Regions from separate parts of the Homo sapiens genome. Here region 1 is linked to region 2. Evidence: fine-mapped expression QTL. Tissue or cell type: whole blood. Region 2 holds a variant in brackets; the other region holds the start of a gene. All regions are shown on one strand. Distances are between the middles of the regions.

Evidence for each region. PIP is the estimated chance that this variant, and not a neighbour inherited with it, causes the effect.
Region 1: SIPA1L1 starts here. The variant in region 2 is fine-mapped to the expression of SIPA1L1 in whole blood (TOPMed, PIP above 0.99).

What each region holds. Positions count from the first base shown.
Region 1 is chr14:71,315,613-71,326,430 of GRCh38, reverse strand. SIPA1L1 (signal induced proliferation associated 1 like 1) reads right to left here and starts at 5,955. Exons shown (of 24, transcript NM_001386936.1): 1 at 5,928-5,955; 2 at 5,250-5,309. SIPA1L1-AS1 (SIPA1L1 antisense RNA 1) reads left to right here and starts at 4,583. Exons shown (of 4, transcript NR_184180.1): 1 at 4,583-4,757. RefSeq lists enhancers at 1,330-1,629, 6,317-6,476 and a silencer at 5,037-6,056.
Region 2 is chr14:71,144,835-71,155,652 of GRCh38, reverse strand. No RefSeq gene overlaps it. Among named protein-coding and RNA genes, the nearest start is that of SIPA1L1, 170 kb to the left of the region's middle. The variant G/A (reference allele first, on the strand shown) is at 5,581.

The sequences.
Region 1 (10,818 bases), 170 kb before region 2:
TTGAGACCAGCCTGGCCAACATGGCGAAACCCTGCCTCTACTAAAAATATAAAAATCAGCCAGGTGTGGCGGCGTGTGCCTGTAATCCCAGCTACTCGGGAGGCTGAGGCAGGAGAATCGCTTGAACCCAGGAGGCAGAGGTTGTAGTGAGCCGAGGTCATGCCACTGCACTCCAGCCTGGGTGACACAGCGAGACTCCATCTCAAAAAAAAAAAAAAAGAAGCAAGTCGCTGAACCACAAAACCATCAATGACTATACCTGTTCATAGCTTTGGTAAAAGGCTTTGTGGAAAAAGTAGAAAGAGAAAAGAAATAACCACAATTAACTTTCATATCTGTGAAATTCATTTAACCTAGACCTGCTCTGTGGGAGGAAAGAGGAAAAAAGGAATCCAATGGCAGCAGCACTGGCTGTCAGTTCTGCTCAAGTTGCCTTTGAGTGACCCCCGAGTTTGTGTGAACCAGCAATTCTCCCTCCCCAAGCTGGCATTCATAACAAGCACACATTCTCCTGCCTTTCCTGAATTGGAAAAAGGGAAATCTAACATTATGTAATTGCCTGCTTCCCGCAATTTCAACTTAGGCATACTAAATCCTAATTAGAGGGAGAACTTAGTGCAACATGACAAGCAACAAATTGGAAATCTACAGGTTGAAATTTCTCATCCCAGACTCCAGAGGCAAAGAGAAATGGCTTCGCCTGACTTTGTGGCACACCCACCAATGCACTACTACTTACTACGGGCCAGCTAAAGCAGCTCCTGACATCCCTCCATGTCATTTTGGTGTCATCTCTCTATGCCTTTAAGAAAACACTCTGTTCTATTTGCAAATGGGGTTATCTTACTCTCTCCAGGCCAGAATAAAAGGAGAAAATGGTTGTTGACTGGTGAACATTACCTACCATTAAAAGATCTGCCCTGATGGTTTTTTGTACCCTCATGATCACAAACCAAATCACTGTGTTGCTCTGTCCCTTATGCAAATCATCCATGTTTAAAAGACCCAGAAGCCACAAATCTTTCCCATGCTTCTAAGACTCACTCCAGAGCTCATCAACAGTCCACTGAATAAAAATAAATGAGCTATCATTTAAGAATAATTAACTTAAATATAACCTTTGAAAGCAAGGTGTCATCAAAGCATGTGGGTTTTGTTTTTGTTTTTGATTAGCTAGGCATAGAAAAAAACTAAAAGCAAAAATTCAATGAGGCCAATTGATTTCCCATACCAAAAAAGTAGAAGTGCAGCAGATAGAAGGTCAGATTGTCAGTCTCAAGGGATAGTGGAACACCCTTATTTTACTGCGTCTGTCTGTAGAATAAGACCCAAACTTCTGTGTGAGCAATGGCAGAATACCACAATGCTTATCTCTCCCGGAAGAAGGAAACCCCCTCACCTCAAGGGCATTCACCCAACCAGCAGGGAAGTTTCTTCTCTGCTGGCTCAGATTACTCCACTGGAAGGTAGGGTGGCGCAACATAAATCAGTCCCATTTTCAACAGGAAGCTCCTACACGTTCCTGTTTTATGTCCTGTTTTATCTCTCCACCTAACACCCCCAGCCCCAATCTCTGGTTACCCTTACATGTCGCTGAGAAAAAAGGTCTAAAATTTAGTTGGCCATGGTCCAGAAACAAGGATGGTACACCTAATTTCTTCCGCAAATGGAAATGAGTTTAAAAAGAGAAGAAAAAGATGAACCAAAATAAACTGAGTTTAGCTTTTCTAAAGAGCTAAAGAGTACATTATGCTCTGTGCAAATAAAGATTTCTTTAAAAATGAAACAAAACAAAAAAGCCTACAGGCTCTACTATGTAGAAACTTTAACTCATATTTTCTTTTTCTGTAACTTTGTCATTTAATTATGAAGCTCGGTTACCAATGTTGTTTTCATAGCTTTACAACCTCACCACAGATCGTTCGTTTCCTTAAGTTTTGCATCTCCTCATTTTGGATATTTAATAAATACTGAACTCTTAAGTGGGGGGAGAAAGTAGTAAAATTTTAACATAACAGGCTCTAAGGTAGGAAAAAAAGAAAAGAAACGAGTGCAATTAAATATGGACACCTGTCTTCCAATCACTGCCTAGTCATTAACCAGTTCTATAACCTTCAACAAATCACTTCAACTTTCTGGGCTTCAGTTTCCTCATACGTAAAATGGGAAACATGAGCCAAATGAGTCAAAATCCCTCCTAGTTCCAACAATCCATGAATCTGTCCAACAAAAAGTAAGAAAACCCTATTACAAATAAGACTTTATAGTTTACAAAGTACTTTCATACATGTATTCTCATCAATTTTTGTAGCTCATCTGTGAAGCAAGTCTTGAGCCCATCTCCGCAGGAAACAACAGTAAAGTTCAGAAAGAAGTTCAATTATTTTTCAATATCTCACAACGAAAATGGCAGGGCAGGTATTTGAAACCCAGACCTTCTGAGGACAAATTCTAGGTTACATTATTTCAAAATGTTAAAATATATTAAAATTCAAAAATAATTGCCTATTATGTATAACCTTTACGAGGGCATCAGGGTACCATAACTCCATGCCAGAAAATATTACTACAAATGGTCCCACTGGACTACAAGTTCCATGTGGCCAGGTACACTCTTGCTCATCACTGTAATCACAGAAACCAAAAGTGCACCTGCCAGATAGCAGCATTCAATAAATATTGCTTGACTCACCACTCAAAAGGTTAGGAATATAGGGATGCTATGGGGAAAAAAAGAAATTTCTGAATTTATTTTCAGATTTGAACTTCCATGATTTGATCCAAAGGGGAAAAAAAAAAGTGTGCTCTATCAGCGCTCTAGTTCTTTATTATGGGAATGAGTCTATTTGTCTTCCATAGAGAAAATCTAATATGGTCAGTGAACCAAAAGGCTCAAATCTGAGATGTCAACAAAAAATCTTCAGGATATTCATACTTCATTTGTGCACTGATACGGACCAATAACAATGATAATACAACGGTAAGGACTGATAAGAGGCACATAGTCACATTATTAATCATGACAAACTTTCCATCAAATTCCACTCTCATACCATTTCAGCTCTCCTCATGCTCCCATTTCACAGCTCAAACAGATTTTTAAAAAAAGAAAAACAGTCATTTATCTAAAAATTCAGATTGCAACTTAAGATAGAACATATATACATCACAACTCAACCAAGATCCCCCCGAAGTCTACAAAACTGCTAATCTCAAGCAATCTTCAATCTATGACTTCAATAAACTCACTAGAAAGTGTTTTTTAAAAGTTCCTAAACAATGAAGATGGGGGCACTATACCAAAATTACACACATACTTCAAAGCAAAAGCAAAGCAAATGCAGAAGCCTGAAAATACTAGTGTAAGGACAGAGACAAAAGAAGAGTTAAATGAATCTCAGTACAAAGTATCAGAGAGGTGCTTTGCAATTATTACCTGGAGTTGAAGTCAACCTTGCCATAGACTCCTCCAATGAAATCACAACTATCACTGACTGATACTTCAGATTTTAAAAGTTCACTGTACCAGAATTGCAATTTCAAACTCGAGGAGCAGAAGCAGGAACTGCAGAGAAGCTAACAACAGCAACACCTACTGACTGTCTCAAGCCACTCACCAAACTTGTTCACTCAGTCAACTAGAAAAATCAAATGACAGTCAACTTCAAGAGTCCTTTACTTAAGCATTAATAAGAAAATTAGTTGTCAGAGACATAAAGCCATTCATCCCCCAAATCTCTTATTTTGCCTCTAACCATTTATGTGGAAACAATCACTCATCATTTTAAATGCACTGTTAATTGTTAATGCTTTAGCATAATTGATTCCATGGGAAAAATGTTTTAATATTAATATTGTAGTTAATAACTGGGATGTCATCTAATAGTTGGACACATCGGTGGCCATAATAAATTAGCTGAGACCTACTGTTATTACCACTGTTCCATATTATCCTCTTTTTTAAATCCTGGTAAAGGTAGCTTAATTGCAGCTTTCAAAAAACGAAGAGAAAAATGACAGTCGTTAAATCAGGATTATATAGAAAACTAATATTATTACTAAACTGGCTGCAGAATTCAGTATGATCTAACCTTGCACGTTTCCAAAAGATTCAGTCAGAGAATCTTTGCCTTGGACGGATACTCCATAGGAGAAAACAGGAGAAAGTTGACACTTAACTCCCACAGAGTACCAGCATAAAGACAATGGCTTTAAGAGTCTGACTCAGAGTTTCAACATGAAAGGTTTGCTTTATAGAGGAAACGCCAATCCCAGTCCATCCAGATAGACCTGGAACCTGATGAAAGTCGACACCTTTATTCTGAAATTTGCATCACATCGCTGGCTCCAGTTTAGAAACATGATCGTTTCACAGGTAGTATGCATTTCAGCGAATGCTGCCTCTAAACTACCCGTCAGGAAAAATAAAATCTATAAGGTAATCGTAGTCTAGGAGCCATCAATCCCCAAATGCTTCTCTTAGAAAACGAATGCCAACAATTTAGCTAAACATCTTCCTTGGAAGTGAGCCATTTCCCATGTCTCTCTGTTCTCCAAACCGCGATGAAATTTCAACCTGCCCAACACGATTACTGGTCCACCTAGAAATGCCGTGGAGCGATTTAAGAGCCTCGGAAATTTCCTTTAAGGTCAGGAGAGAAGCTGGTAACAGATGGGGCGAAGGAGGAAAAGTTCTTTTTGCGGCACCCTCACGCCTTCCCAGCCCTTTCGCGGTTTACTCGCTCCCCGGAAAGCAGGTTAGAGCATCCCAAAATTTCATGTCCCCAAGACCCCCAAAGGGGAAATTAACCACCCTCGGGCACCGAGCTGTTCGTCTCCATTTCCCACAACTCAACCAACTCGGCCTGCCTACTCCAGCTCAGGCTGCAAAGCGCTCACCCAGGTGACTGGAGGGGAAGGGTCGCCAGGTGGCGACCAGCTCAGCGGGGTGGACGCAACCGCCCGGACCGGGACGCGGGTCTCCTGGCCTCCCGCAGAGACGCCTGCCCAGTAGTTGTGCAGATTCGGGTTCTGGGGTGCGTGCGCGCGCGCCGGGCGCGGTGAAGCCGGACTCGCCCCCGCCGGGCTAAGCTACCAGCAAGCCACCAAATCGAAAATCAAACTTTAACCGGCCTCCTGGGGTCCTGCTCCGGGCCCTGGACCCCAACCCCGGCCAGAAACAGGGCAGGGGGCTGTCAGCCGTCCTGCACCCCCGCTCCCCCCAGGACCCGGGCGCGGGGACCACTTACCGCTCGGCCCGGCCTCCCGGTGCCGCCGCGCGTCCCGGGCGCGTCCGCCGCGCGCTCTCCCTGGGGAGAAAGAGAAACCGTGTAGACGGCCGGCGCGCGCTCACTCGCCGCCTCCTCTGCGGAGAGCGGCGAGGCCGGCCCGAGGCGGGCGCCGAGCGCGGAGCGGAGGGGGGCCCGAGGGAGGCGGGGGTGGAATCAGCCCAATTCCCGAGGCTGGCTCCGAGGGGGACCCGGAATACAGGCTGGCGGGGGGCCGGCGGGGGCCGAGCTCCCGGAGGAGGGGAAGGCGGAGGTGGCCCCGTCCTTGGGCATCAACTATTGTCTAGGCGCCCGGGCCCCCGCTCGCGCCGTCCCCGAGGCTCAGCGCCCCCATCCCGCCCGCCAGCAGAAAGAACTGAGGGGGCGGCCAGTACGGGAAGCAAGTGCGGGGGTCCGGGCTCCGAAGGTCCAAGGTGGGCGCGAGGTTGCCGGGGGGGGGATGAGGAGGTGCGTACCGCATGGGGGAGGGGACAGGTAAGTGCGGACGGGGGCGGGAAGGCCCCAACGACCGGTGGGGGAGGAAATGGGGAGGGAGCCACAGAGGCGGGAGGGAATGGAGTGGCTGCGGGGGCGGCCTCTGGGGCCCAGACCTGGCCCTCCCCGGGGACCCTCCAGCCGGGGACTCGGCGCTGCACTGACTTTTCGCTCACTCGCTCACGCACGCACTGAACTCGCTCACAAAGTTGCCGGCAGTGGCGGCGCCTCACTCGCCCTTCCCCTCCCCGCCCCGCCTCCCGCCCCATTCCTTCCCCTCCTTCACTCCTCCCTCTCCCCCAAGTCTCGGGTGAGATCACCACGGAGCGGCTTAGCGCGGCGCACAAGTCTCGCGAGAGAAGCGGCGGCTGGGCCCTGCAGGCGGAGGAAGTGGAAAAAGTCGCGGGAGGGTAGGGGACCGCGGAACTTCTGGTTGCTATGACGACGGCAAAGCCCTGGATTCCTGTCTCCTGCGGAGAGCAGAGGCTGCAAACGTGGGTGCAGTTTTCAACCTGCCCGGCGCACTGGCGGTGGGGAAAGCTAGGGGTGGTTGCGGAAGGATAATTTTTAAGCCGATTCAAGAGGGCATCTCGAGAGGACCACAGTCATGATATCTGGCCAAATTTGGCAAATGAGACTAATGTATTAAGAGGTTCTGGGACAGGTTTCTGCCTTTCTAGGCAGCACATATCTGCACCCCAAATTTCTACTATATATTCAGTTTTTCGGCCTTCTCTTTCAATCTAATTCCTCCATCCCCACACTCCCCATGCTGCCTCCCTCCTCCTCTTCTCAACTCGCAAACACACGCAGACTGGGCTCCTTCAGGAACTGGCTCATTCATCTCTGTATTCTCAGCGCCTCTATAGGCTTGGTCCATACTACATATTGGCCACTTTTTTGACAAGTTGAACGCAACAGTCCATGCCTGTCCTCAGTACTTGCCTTTGGCCCTAACCTAGAGAGTTCAGTCAAGTTTGGACTCTATCAAGCTACCCTCCCATTTCTGTTAACACCTTGTCTTTTTCAATGGTAATAATCTCTGCTTTCTCCATATTTTTCTCGTAAAAACCCTATTCACCATGGTGAGGGGAACTTTTTTTTTAATCATTAGGCATCCGCAGACGCCTTTATACGTACTCCAAAATGCTAGTAAGGATGAAGATGAACTCTCCTCAGCCCGTGTCTTTTAACTGTAGAAACTTTTCTGAGGTGAGGGTTATTATATACTCACTGCCTAAGTAAAATGGATATTATGAATAGAAGTTAAACTTTAGATTTCAAAATGAATGAGTAAAAATAGATACCATTGTATGTGGATTATATCTCAATTTTTAAAATTCCTATCCATGAACATGGGGAAACCATTATTTAACTCAGTCCCACAGAACTAGAAACCTAAAGCATAACCTAAGCATATGAGGACTAGGCAGTCAAAACTTGTAAGTCACTTGCAAGTTTAAATCCTGTCAATGAAAGTTTGTGTATTAGAAACCTAAGTGATACTAGACAAAGTCAGCAAACTAGGGTTTACGTTTTTCTGTGCCACTAATAATTGAGTCTCCTTGAGAAGTTATTTAATCTCTCTGATTCTTCATCTGTGGGGGGTACCCCACATGTTAGGTTATTACAGCTTTAAAATTCTATAGCTGGCCGGCATGGTGGCTCACATGCATAATCCCAGCACTTTGGGAGGCCCAGGTGGGAAGACTGCTTGAAGCCAGGAGTTTGAGACTATCCTGGGCAACATAGAGAGACCCTGTATCTACAAAAATAAAAAATATTAGCTAGGTATACTGACATGCACCTGTAGTCCCAGCTATTCAGGAGGCCGAGGCTTGAGAATCACTTGAGCCCAGGAGTTAAAGGCTGCAGTGACCTCTGATCACACCACTGCACTCCAGCCTGAGCAACACAGTGAGATCCTGCATCTAAATATATATACACATATGTATGTGTGAGTATATATATATATATATATATATATATAATTTAATATAAGAGCTCTTAGACCTATAAAATTTTCCAATAAATAACAAATCTTCCTTTTACAGCAAATGATAAAAAAAGTTTCATCTTATAGTAGGTCAGTTTCACAAAGAGTAGCTATATGTTGACAATTTTCTTTAAATGTTGACAATTTTATTTTAAAATTTATCTTGTCCCAACTACAAAAACAACAAAAATATTGACCATGTTACAGTAATTTCAAAGGTAATCTATAGTTCATGATTTGCTTTTACACTAACTCAAAGCAGATTCCTTGTTATTTAATAAATACTCTAATTAAAACCAAAGACCCAAACTAAATACATCCATACTCCCAAAATAACTATAAGGAAAGAGGGAGGGAGGGAGGAAGGAAAGGAAGGAAGGAAGGAAGGAAGGAAGGAAGGAAGGAAGGAAGGAAGGAGCGAAGACTAGATCTGTGGAAGGAAGGAAGGGAGGGAGGGAGGAGGGGAAGGACGGAGGGCCTCAGATTCATTTACTGGTGTGTTTAATATCACATTTTCACAAAGAAACACAATGGAACATCACCATCAGTCCTGTGAATCTGTTTTAAGGAACCATTTTTCATAACATTGCAAAATATTATAAATCAGTTGTTGCTCATTTGTTCTGGCTTAGCTTTTAACATAATTTTGCCCTTAAAAGATGGCTGCCAATCTACATCCACCAACGCAGTACAATTTCAGGACCATCTGTTTTATGACTCCCAGATAGCCATTTGAAATAATTGACCCAAATGCTAGCCAAATCTATTAACATTCTTCAGTGCTTCATATAAGGCTCAAGAGATGGGTGTTGGCCTCAAATTACAAAAATAACCTCCCTAATCTTCAGACATAGTAAAATAGTAGAAATTGTCCCAGGGATCTAAAACTGCTTTTTCAAGGCCCTGGGCTACTATTTATCCCTCACTGATGGCAGAACTTTCATCCGTGTTTCTAAAGGAGATAAAAAGTGAAAGCTACCAAAGCCTAGTTTCCAACTGCACATTCTCTAGGTCAGTCACTCCTGCTGTATCTTCCTGACCTTCCTAGGTTTCAAAATAGCAGATGTCAGGCAGCAGAAGAGGGAAATGCGGAATGGAGAGTTTGCCAAGAGCACAGACTAGATCTCAGTCCACTTCCTGTCCACTGTCTTGGCTCCTCTACCCATCTCTGCTCAACCCCTTGCCTTTGCCCTCCAACACAAAGGATATGTAACCTTTCTAGTGATAAGAACATCTAGTCATTTGCTATGTTGTTCCCTCCCTATTTGCTTCTTATTTCGTTAAAACCCAGGTGAATTCATTTCCCTCTGGTTATTTACCTCTACTCAACAAAACACCCTAATGTATAGTGTATACCAAATATAGAATGAATTTTGACACAGAGGCCTACCATACAAATTTTATGTATTTTTTAATATTATAAACACTGACTCACATTTGCATGTTTTACATTTAAAATCTGATTTAACTGGCCTATTCAGAACTCCAGTAGCTGTACATCTGCAGGGCATTATTCTAAGTGATATTTAGAAAGATTACTCTAAATCATTACAAAGGTCCAAAGTGCCCTCAAAATTATTCAGGATTAAATGATATCCCATGTTGTTTTAATTTTAGGGTGTTATTATTTTAGCCTTATTGATGTAACTCTGTTTACATGAATACTGGATTCCTTAGCAAATGCCCCTTCTCTCATTTACATAGTAGTATTCATTACAAGTTTAAAACACCAACTACTTTATAACGTTGTTATAAATAATTATAACGTTCTGTTAATCAATTAACAGCAAAACTACTATACTTCCCTGTGCTCTTCCCTCCTCTTTAAAGGACTGTTTCACATCTTCTCCTCCTTAATCAAACCTCTGCCTAGTACTTCTAGCTAATGGCCTTGCTCCCTCTTTTGTTGGTAAAATAGAAATAATCAGAAGAGAACTGAACACACATACCCTCTCTATCACTCTTGTCTACCAACCTGCCTGCATCTGTCTGCATATACTCCTCTGTCCTTCCTGTCATTTATGAACTCTTGGTGCTCTTAGCCAAGATTAGCCTCGGTCTGTGCATTAGTGCCATCACCTCTAACTCAGGGACATTGATTCAGCAACTGTCCCCACTCTCTCTTGAATCAGCAAATTTTCCTTCTCTACTGCTTCACTTCTAAGGGCTTACAAGCATACTGGAATATCTGCCGTGGTAAAAACTAAAATGCTTCCTAAATTTTATGTCTCCCCCTGCTTCACTTTATAACTGGAATCTTCAAAAGGCTCTTCCATGCTTGGTGTCTTCAATTCCTATCCTTCCCTTCCCATGAATCCACTCTGAGCAGCCTTTCACCCCCACTACTCCACAGCAACAGGTCTTCTCAGGGGCATCAGTGACTGCCTTATTGCTAAATCTGGTGCTCAACTTCCAAGCTCACCTGGCTGGAGCCCTCAGCAGCAGGGAAGAGGTCAACCATGCTGGTTCTTGAAATGTTTTCTTCCCTTGGCTTCTGAGCCAAGAGTCTATCCTAGTTCTTATCCTACCTTTCTGGTCTTTTTAGTCTTGAACCTCTCAACATAGGAGGCTCCAGGACTCAGACTTTGGACATCTCTTTATGGTCTCTTTTCACTCTGTGGTGAGCTCACCAGTCTGATAGTTTTAAATACCATCTATACATTAAATACTCCCAAACTTACACCTCCAGGCTAGTCATCTCCCCCATCTCCAGATTTGTACATCCATCTGCTACTCAACATCTGCAATTGATTATGTACTAGGTATTTCAAATTTCACATGTTTAAAACTGATGAGCTCCAAATATTCCCCCAAAAACCAGTGCCCTCCTGAACTCCAGATATCCCTCTCAAAACCGGTTCCCTCTGGGAGGCTGAGGTAGGTGGATCATGAGGTCAAGAGATCGAGTCCATCCTGGCCAACATGGTGAAACCCCATCTTTACTAAAAATACAAAAATTAGCTAGGCATGGTGGCGCGTGCCTGTAGTCGCAGCTACTCAGAAGGCTGAGGCAGGAAAATCACTTGAACCTGGGAGACAGAGGTTGCAGTGAGCCGAGAT
Region 2 (10,818 bases):
TTCTGACCCTGGGGGTAGTGGATTTATCAGGGAAGGACCCCCCAGGAGCAGAAGGCTCAGGTCATGATAGTGACACAGATGACCAAGCCATCTATTCTGAATAGTAGATGAAATGTGTCCTTACAAATACTGCACACTGGAGACATAGAACATAACAGTTGTACACATATTCTCCCTACTCCTTCACAACCTTGGGAAATAGATATTATTTCTATCACTCCCATTTTACACATGAGGAATCAGAGGTTTAGAGGGGTTAAATAAATTGCCGAAGTCACATTTCTTTGATCCCGTAAGGAGTTTTCAGTCCTTCTCCTCTTTGTTCTAATTCTCTGAGGTTAGACCCATTTTCATCCAGCAAGAGCTGGCCAAAGCCTGGTCAGTCCTGTGCATGGACAAGCAGGGCAGCAGGCTGGGAAGAGAAAGCAGCCTGGAGTGGGGCGGATGAGCTGGCTGGAGGGGATGGGGCAGGCTGTATCCCACAGTTCACTGCCAGGGTGACAACAGACACTCAGAGGATCTCTAAGGAGGCTCAAATGTGCTTGAAGGACACAGGGCTTCCTGAAGCTCCCAGGATGCAGGTTTAAATGACAGTTATCCAAATCTCTAAGGAATGGTTGGCTCTGAAGGGCTGGGGAAAAGGGAATCTATAGAAAACTGGACTGTATGCGCTGCATCCCAGATATGTGGTAGGTGTCGTGGCTTTTACATACATTAACAGGTTTTATCATCAAATTTTTTTTTTTTCTTTTGAGACGAAGTCTTGCTCTGTCACCGGGCTGGAGTGCAGTGGTGCGATTTCGGCTCACTGCAACCTCTGCCTCTCTGGTTCAAGTGATTCTCCTGCCTCAGCCTCCCGAGTAGCTAGGACTACAGGTGTGCACAACCACGCCTGGCTAATTTTTGTATTTTTTGTAGAGACGGAGTTTCACCATGTTGGTCAGGATGGTCTGGATCTCCTGACCTGGTGATCCACCCTCCTCAGCCTCCCAATGTGCTGGGATTACAGGCATGAGCCACCACGCGCAGCCTACCACATTCATTTTTAACTGCTGCATAGTGTTCCACTGAACAAACGTGTCTTTTTTTTTCTAATCAGTCCCCTACTAATTAGCTTTTTATCTTTGGTGAGAGAGAAGAAGTAAATGTAGATATCATTCATACTGTTACTAGGGTTTTTCAGTTACAAAAATGCTGCAGTGAGCATCCTTATGCTTACATCTTTGCCTGTATATATGAGTGTCATATAACATCTCTGAATTTTAGTACATTTATTTGAAATGCTTGAAACTAGAAGTGTTTTGGATTTCCATTTTCTTCTGGATTTTGGAATAGTTGCACACTGGTTGCATATCCCAAATCTGAAAATCTGAAATTCTCCAATGAGCATTTCCTTTGAGTGTAATGTGGGTGCTCAAAAAGTTTCAAATTTGGGGGCATTTCAGATTTCAGATTTTTGTATTTGAGATGCTCAACCTATAGGGACATGGCTCCCAGAATAAAGACTACATTTCTCGGCAGTCCTGCATTCAGGTATGACCAAGCAACTAAGTGCTGGTCAGTGGGACATAGCAGAAGCAATGCGTGTGACTCTGGGATTGCGGCTTTACAGGGAAGAAGTGTGGCTGCATACCTTTCCCCATTGGCCCAGGCTGGAGTGTGGATGTGGAGGGGAGCTCTTTTATATTATGCAGATGAGGATAGCAGTCTAGGATAGCAGAGCAACAAAATATGAACCCTGGGCCCACAACAACACAGAATCACACACTCCCACACCAACAGCTGTAGGTTGATTAAGCTGGGCTACTATGTCCAGAAAGAAATATACCTCTGTTGTGTTTAAGCCACTATTATTTGGGTTCTCAATTATGGCAATCAATCCAATACTCTAATTAAAATTAATATATTCACAGGATAAATTCAGAGCAGTGGAATTGCTACATCAAAAAGTATATGCATTAAAAAATTTGATTTCTAATACCAAATTGCCTTTCACAGCTGCTGCACTAATTTAGACTCCCACTAAGAGTACATGATGGCACCTGTTTCGCCAGAGCCTTGCCAACACTGCACATCATCAAGCTTCAAATGTTTGCCCATAGTTGAAAAGCAGCTAATAATTTAAAATTTTATATTAATGTAATTATGATGGAAAGGCAGAGTCTATGCCTATGTTTATTATTTTTTGCATACATTATCTTCCATCCTTATGCCAATTCTATGGCATGTTATTATTATCACCATTTAGTTTACTTCTAAAATGTTAACTGTGCAAGATGGCACAGTGCGTAAGTGACGGAGCCAGCTCTGAATTCAGGTCTGACTCACTCTAAAACCGGAGCTCTTTTATCTGCCTTGCCAGGGTTTCCACCTCCCTATCACCACCTGTATGTGTACTGAACAGGAACATGAGGGCCCAGACAGGCAGATCGGCCTCCATGGCCAGGTCCACCTGGGCCCACTGAAGCATCGATAAATTATGATCATCAGCTCTGACCTCAGGTAGTTGGACTCATGAACTCCTTCTTAAGACAGAGGTAGCTGTGAGGTCTTTTTCTGCTTTTCTCATTGAATGGCTACCAAGCCTGACCAACTTGTAAGCATCTTCAAAAACACTTTTTTCCTTTAGTTGTATTATGTCTAAAACCAGTAGAGAAAATTGCCTTTCAGAATAAAATTTGTAGCATGATCATCAGTAGCCTATATTCTAGGCAGAGAACAGCATCCTGACCAAAAGAAGAGGTCTTTGAGCTTCAATTTCCTCATCTTTATATTGAGAATAATCATCAGCTTTTTATCTTTGGTGAGAGAGAAGAAGTAAATGTAAATGTATGCTTTGTATATAGTAGAAACTCCAAAAATTATACCTATTATTTTTTAATTGTTAAGACTTCTTTCCAATACCCCTGCAGCTCGCAGGTCTATGAAGTACACACATTTATACTGATGTAACTAGGCCTCATTTACAAATTCATTCAGAAAATATGTATTGCTGAGTCTTGACATCTTTGGGCATGACATGAGGATAAGAGTCATAACACCAGCTAACACATGCATAGTGCTTACACCCATCCAGGAACTGTTCTGTCCTTTTCATGTACTGACCCACTTAACCATCACAACCACAACCCTAATCTGGAGGATCCCCATCTTACAGATGGGGGAGTCCGAGTTGAGAGGGACCAGTGAGCCACAACTCTCAGAGCTTAACCCCAGCGGCCTGGGTGAATTTCTTACACCTCCTGTAGCTACACCAGGCTTCTCACCGTTCTCATTGCTGTTCCCAGGTGTTCCTCCCCTTGGAGAATATTCTAGCCACCTGTATTAGCCCATTCCCACATTGCCATAGAGAAATTCCTGAGACTAGGTAATTTATAAAGAAAAGAGGTTTAATTGGCAGGGCTGTGAGCCAATTAAACCTCTTTTCTTTATAAATTACCCAATTAAACAGGAAGCAAAGCAGCTTCTGCTTCTGGGGAAGACTCAGGAAACTTAGAATCATGGCGGAAGGTGAAAGGGTAGCAGCCACATTTTATGTGGATTAAGCAGGAGGAAGAGAGATAGCAGGGAGGTGCTACACACTTTTAAACAACCAGATCTCATGAGAACTCACTCACTATACAGTACCAAGGTGGGGATGCTGCTAAACCATTCATGAGAACTTTGCCCTCATGATCCATCCAATCACCTCCCACCAGGCTCCACTTCCAACGTAGGGGATTACAATTGAATATGAGATTTGGATGGGGACACAGATCCAAACCATATGATTCTGTCCCTGACCCCTCCCAAATCTCATGTTCTCACATTCCAAAACAGAATCATCCCTTCTCAATGGTCCCCAAAGTCTTAACTGTGTCCAGCATTAACTCAAAAGCACAAAGTCCGAGTCTTATCTGAGATAAAGCTAGTCCCTTCCACCTATGAGCCTGTAAAATTAAAAAAAAAAGTTAGTTATTCCCAAGATACAATGAAGGTACAAGCATCGGGTAAATACTCCCATTCCAAAAGGGAGAAATAAGCCAAAAGAAAGGGGCTGCAGGCCACATGCAAGTCTGAAACCCAGCAGGGCAGTCATTAAATCTTAAGCTCCAAAATAATCTCCTTTGACTCCATGTCCCATATCCAGGGCACACTGGATGCAAGGAGTGGTTCCCAAGATCTTGGGCAGCTCCAGCCCTATGGCTTTGCAGGGAATAGCCCCTGTGGCTGCTCTCATTAACTGTTGTTGAGTGCACATTGCTTTTCTAGGTGCATGGTGTAAGTTGTCAGTGGATCTACCATTCTGGGGTCTGGAGGATGGTGGCCCTCTTCTCACAGCTCCAGTAGGCAGTGCCCCAGTGGGGATTCTGTGTGGGGGCTCCAACCCCACCTTTCCCCTCTGCACTGCCCTAGTAGAAATTCTCAGTGAGGGCTCTGCCCCTGCAGCAGGCTTTTGCCTGGACATTCAGGCTTTTCCATACATCCTCTGAAATCTCGGTGGAGGGTCCCAAACCTCAACTCTAGCACTCTGAGTACCCACAGACTTAAGACCATGTGGAAGCTGTGAAGGCTCATAGCTTGCACCTTCTGAAGCAGCAGCCTGAGCTGTACCTGGGCTGCTTTGAGCTAAGGCTGGAGCTAAAGCAGCCAGGATGCAGGGAACAGTGTCTTCAGGCCGCTCATGGTGGCAGGGCCCTGGGCCTGGCACACCAAACCGTTCTGTCCTCCTAGGCCTTCGGGCCTGTGATGGAAGGGGCTGCCATGAAGGTCTGTGAAATGCCTTGGAGGCCCTTTCCCCATTGCCTTGGCTATTCGCTCTTGCTTTCCTTTTAGTAATGCGAATTTTTGCATCTGGCTTGAACTGTTCCTTTGGAAATGGGCTTTTCTTTTCTACCACATGGCCAGGCTGAAAATTTTCCAAACTTTTATGCTCTGCTTCCCTTTTAAATATAAATTCCAGCTTCAAGTTATTTCTTTGCTCGTGCACATGAGCATAGGTTGTTAGAAGCAGCCAGACCACTTGTTGAACAATTTGCTGCTTAGAAAAATTATTCAGCCAGATCCATAAATCATCATTCTCCAGTTCAAAGTTCCACAGATCCATAGGGCAGAGGCATAATGCAGGCAACCTCTTTACTAATGCATAACAAAGGTGACCTTTGCTCCAGTTCCCAATAAGTTCCTCATCTCCATCTGAGACCTCCTCAGCCTGAACTTCACTGTCCATATGACTATCAGCATATTGGTCACAACCATTCAACAAATTTCTAGGAAGTTCCAATTTTTCCCTCATTTTCTTGTCTTCTTCTGAGCCCTCCACACTCTTCCAGCCTCTGCCCATTATCCAGTTCCAAATCCGCTTCCACATTTTCAGGCATTTTTATAGCAATGTCCCATTTCTCAGTAACAATTTTCTGTATTGCCAAGACCAGCTCAGTCATGGGGACCCTAACCCAGTGGTGCTAGAGGAATTAAAGATACACACTCACAGAAATATAGCATGTGGAGTGGGAAATCAGGGGTCTCACAGCCTTCAGAGCTGAGATCCTCGAACAGAGATTTACCCACATATTTATTGACAGCAAGCCAGTGATAAGC[G/A]TTATTTCTATGGATTGTAGATTAACTAAAAGCGTTCCTTACAGAAAATAAAGGGATGGGCCGAAATAAAGGGATGGGCCTGCAACAGGAACATGTCCTTAAGGCACAGATTGCTCATGCTATTGTTTGTGGTTCAGGAACACCTTTAAGCAGTTTTCTGCCCTGGGTTGGCCAGGTGTTCCTTGCTCTCATTCTGGTAAACCCACAACCTTCAGCGTGGGCATCATGGCCATCATGAACATGTCATGGTGCTGCAAAGATTTTGTTTATGGCCAGTTTTGGGGCCAGTTTATGGCCAGATTTGGGGGCCTGTTCCCAACACTGTATTAGTTCGTTCTCGCATGACTATAAAGAAATAACTGAGACTGATAATTTATAAAGAAAAGAGGTTTCATTGGCTCACAGTTCTACAGGTTATACAGGAAGCACAGTGGCTTCTGCTTCTGGGGAGGCCTCAGGAAACTTAGAATCATGGCGGAAGGTGAAGGGGAAGCCGACACGTCTTACATGGATGAAGCAGGAGGAAGTCGGGGGGCAGGTGCTGCACACTTTTAAACAACCAGATCTCGTGAGAACTCACTTGCTATACAGTACCAAGGGGGGGTGATGGTGCTAAACCATTCATGAGAATTCTGCCCCCATGATCCAATCACTTCCCATCAAGCCTCACACTGGGCATTACAATTGAACATGAGTTTGGATGGGGACACAGATCCAAACCATATCACTGCCATTTCCTTCCTGGTGCACCTCCAGCATCACCTTCTCTTCCCTCCCTTTGTATTGTTTCCTACCCTACTCCTGCCTCCCTCCAAGCCTTCTCAATTCCCTGCTCTATTGTAGGTCTTCACTGAGACCTGTGACAGCCCTCAAGGGCAGGGATGTGTCTGATTCATCTACGCATCTTGGGCCTGGTCTATCCAGGCAGAGGCAGCCTTTCCAGAGAAGAACTGAGGGAACAAGAACTCAAAGGAACAGACCAGGAGCTCCCTGGCTGAATGGAAGTAGGGAGAATTTTACAATAGTGTCTGGATTCTTAGAGTACTGGCCCATCTCTGTACTTCTTAGAGTATAGGAGAGAAGAGTTGACATCCAGAAAGCCATGAGACCTCATTGAAACAGCAGGGAAATCTGCCATTTGGAAGGCATGGCAGGAACATCTCCTGCCCTGACTCCCTTTTCTGAGACAGAGAGAAGCACTCACAGGAACATCTGCCTACACAGCTTATGGGAGCAACCACTTCCTGTAGACCCTGGTGAGGGCTGGCTGGGGAGAAGAGGAGGGCGGCAGCAGCCCAGCATGTTGCCAGGTGGCTAAACCTCAAGGACAGTATGTGCCCAGTGGATCCCTACGCTGATGTCTCCAGGCTGGGTTTAGGCTGGCCCCTTCTCTTGCGTTTGGGCTTTGTATTGTGGGAGAAGTTTCCCATAGATTGTGTCCTAAGACAAGAGAGTCAGGTCAGGAGAAAGACTTCCTGAGGCTCCCTGAACCTAAGCACCAGGTGCAGGGGCCCAAGGCTTCATGGCTGTGGGGTGCCACGTACCCGCTTTGGCATGTCCAGGAGAACTAAAATCCATCCAATACAAAAAGGGAAAAGTCCAGGGGATTTCCATCAGACAAGAAATCATAAAGTTGTACATGTTTTGCCTGACTTGAACCCAGTTAGATTTCTAGGCGGACCTGGGGAAGAAGTCAGTGGGCCAGAAGGCCACTTTCTTATGGGACTTTGGCCTCTGACTATTGCCGGCAGCACTGGACCAGGAATGTCTTGAGGATGGGGATGGAGTATGACTCTTTTTTGCATCCCTAGCCATTAGCACAATCCATGACATACACTGAGTTATCAATAAGTGTAGGGTCCAGTCCCACAGGGTTGATGGGCTTTCTTCCCATGTGCAGAGACGAGAGAGTGTAGAAATAAAGACACAAGACAAAGAGGTAAAAGAAAAGACAGCTGGACCTGGGGGACCACTACCACCAAGACGCAGAGATCAGTAGTGGCCCCAAATGCCAGGCTGCGCTGATATTTATTGGATACAAGACAAAGGGGCAGGGTAAGGAGTGTGAGCCATCTCCAATGATAGGTAAGGTCACGTGGGTCACATGTCCACTGGACAGGGGGCCCTTCCCTGCCTGGCAGCCGAGGCAGAGAGAGAGAGAGGAGAGAGAGAGACAGCTTATGCCATTATTTCTGCTTATCAGAGACTTTTAGTAGTTTCACTAATTTGCTACTGCTATCTAAAAGGCAGAGCCAGGTGTACAGGATGGAACATGAAGGTGGACTAGGAGCATGACCACTGAAGCACAGCATCACAGGGAGACTGTTAGGCCTCTGGATAACTGCAGGCGGGCCTGACTGATGTCAGGCCCTCCACAAGAGGTGGAGGAGTAGAGTCTTCTCTAAACTCCCCCAGGGAAAGGGAGACTCCCTTTCCCAGTCTGCTAAGTAGCAGATGTTTTTCCTTGACACTGATGCTACCGCTAGACCACGGTCCGCTTGGCAACGGGTGTCTTCCCAGATGCTGGCGTTACCGCTAGACCAAGGAGCCCTCTGGTGACCCTGTCTGGGCATAACAGAAGGCTCACACTCTTGTCTTCTGGTCACTTCTCACTATGTCCCCTCAGTTCCTATCTCTGTGTGGCCTGGTTTTTCCTAGGTTATGATTGTAGAGCAAGGATTATTATAATATTGGAATAAAGAATTATTGCTACAAATTAATGATTGTTATTCATATATAATCATATCTAAGATCTATATCTACTATAACTATTCTTATTTTATATATTTTATTATACTGGAACAGCTCATACCCTCAGTCTCCTGCCTTGGCACCTGGGTGGCTTGCCGCCCACAAATAAGTTTTTATTGATTGAATTAATGAATAGAAGGATAAATAGATAAAAATGAATGAAATGAAGATTAATAATGGATCTTAATGATTCTAGTTTAAAATGCCAGTCATTAGCTAGACCACCCCTCCCACCACCACCACCCAGTAACTAACATCATCTTCTTTCCCAATAATTGGACATGCTTTGTGATAACTTAGGTCACACCTGCCAAGATATCCCAAATTTTACCTACCAAGACTAGAGAACAAGAAAATTTCCATGTGTGCTTCCAGGATAAAATCATTAGACCTTATTAGTTGAAAGACTTTGAAGAACACTGTAACTTCAGTTTCCCAATCTGTAAAATGGGGGTAAAAAGCATAACTATCTCCAATTGTGTCCTGAATTAAATGAGATAATTCATGTAAAGCACTGAGCTGAGTTCAGGGCATCTATTAAATTCTTAATAAGTGCTAGCATCATTATTACCATCATTCCTGGTAGTCCAGGATACCTTTTCTTTTCTTTTCTATTTTTTGCTACAGGGCCACCCACTCAGTCTGCTCCCCAGGCTGGAATGCAGTGCACAATCATAGCTCACTGTAACCTTGAACTCCTGGGCTCAAGCAATCCTCCCACCTCAGCCTCCTGAGTAGCTGGGACTACAAGCACGAGCTACCATGCTTGGCTAATTTTGAAATTTTTTTGTAGAGACTGGGTCTCATTTTTGTTGCCCAGGCTGGTCTCAAACTTATGGCCTCAAGCAATCCTCCTGTCTCAGCCTCCCAAAGTGCTAGAATTGCAGGCATCTACACTGCACCCGGTCTCAGGATACTTTTTCAATGGACTTTAATTCCTTCATACTTTCTGTTTTATAATATTTTGGAGAGTGGGATTTCCCACCCTCAATGTTATTCTTGCCTGCCAAGCACAGGTGTTCTGTCTTTGAAAAGGACAGAGGCTTCTCTTTGAAAGACAGAGCCCCAGGACGGTGGTGGATGCTGCCGCCTTCGGAATATGGTCTCCCCAGAGCAAGCTGGACTGTGAAGTCTGCCAGCCCCAGAGGGACTGAGCAGGAACTAGGTTGAGCAATGGCCTGGTGGCCACTCTGGATCTCCACACTCCCGTCCCGCCACCCCCACCTGCAACAGAGGGCACTCCTCACTCCTCTGGTCTGGGGCTCCCCAGGACAGCTCCAGAGGGCAGGTGCTCTCACTCTGCCCACAAGACTGCTGAACACTGTTAATTTCAGAGCCATAGGGTGGATTCTTTTTCAGGTTGTCAGCAGCATCTATCCCCAACACAGATCCCCTGTCGGCTCCAGCAGGCCTCATTCTGTGAAAGGAAATGGGAGACTCAGGGTCAAATCATTGGAAAAGACAGGAGTTCAGGCCTTGACAGAGCAAGAAAGAGGTCAAAGCCTGAGTTACTAGCTCTACTGGGCTTAATTTCCACATAGGAAGGTAAGGCAAACACAGCAGTGTAGCACGTTGTTGCTGAACGGAACTCAGGTTGATCTGGTCTGACTTTTCCATTGTTCAGTTGAGGACACCAAGAGGCTTGGTAGCCCTGCCCAAAGTCACAGAGAGAGCTTGGGCTGAGCCTGGACTAGACCCAGGTCTCAGGCCTCAGGCTCGACTACCCTTTTTTGTAAGGTCTAGTTTTTGTCGTAAGGGAATGACCACATTTTGTTGAGGCAGCCAGGGACTTATTGCTACCGGCATCTAGTGGGTAGAGGTCAAAGATGCTGCTGAAAATGGCACACATATGACAGCCCCACAATAAAGAACTGTCATGCCCAGAGCGTCAACTCAGCTGACTCTGTTGGCGAGTGTAGGTAACACTCTAGGCTGATCACCCAAGCTTCCTGGAAGAGTGGAATTGCAAGAGGGGAAAAAAATGCAGTGGAAATAGCTTATAGTTTAGCATTTCCACTGTTTGGTGAGAAAACAGGTGTAGTGTCTTTTTTCTGACACTTCTGATACCAAGTGTGTGGAGAGTGTTCCACACTCGTGACCCGTGACTCTGACATCAACAGGAATCCAACAGTCAATTCAGTTCTAACTCCTGGAGTTAGAGCCAACAGTGCATGTTCAAGGCTCCGTCCCAGACTGCCCCTGCTTCAGATGCCAGCCACAAGTCCAAGAAGCCGCCCATACTTCTGACTATACATTTGGGAGTTTCTACAACCCCTTCCTCAGTTTTGATAATTCACAGCTCATAAAACTCAGGAAAACGTATTAATTAACATTTGCCCATTAATTATAAAGGATACAATTCAGGAACAACCAAATGGAAGAGCTGCATAGGGAGGGTGGCAGCCACCACCGTCCTGGGGCTCTGTCTTTCAGATGCACCATCCTTGAAGCGCATCAATGTCTTTCTTTTATTTTTTAAACAGGGTC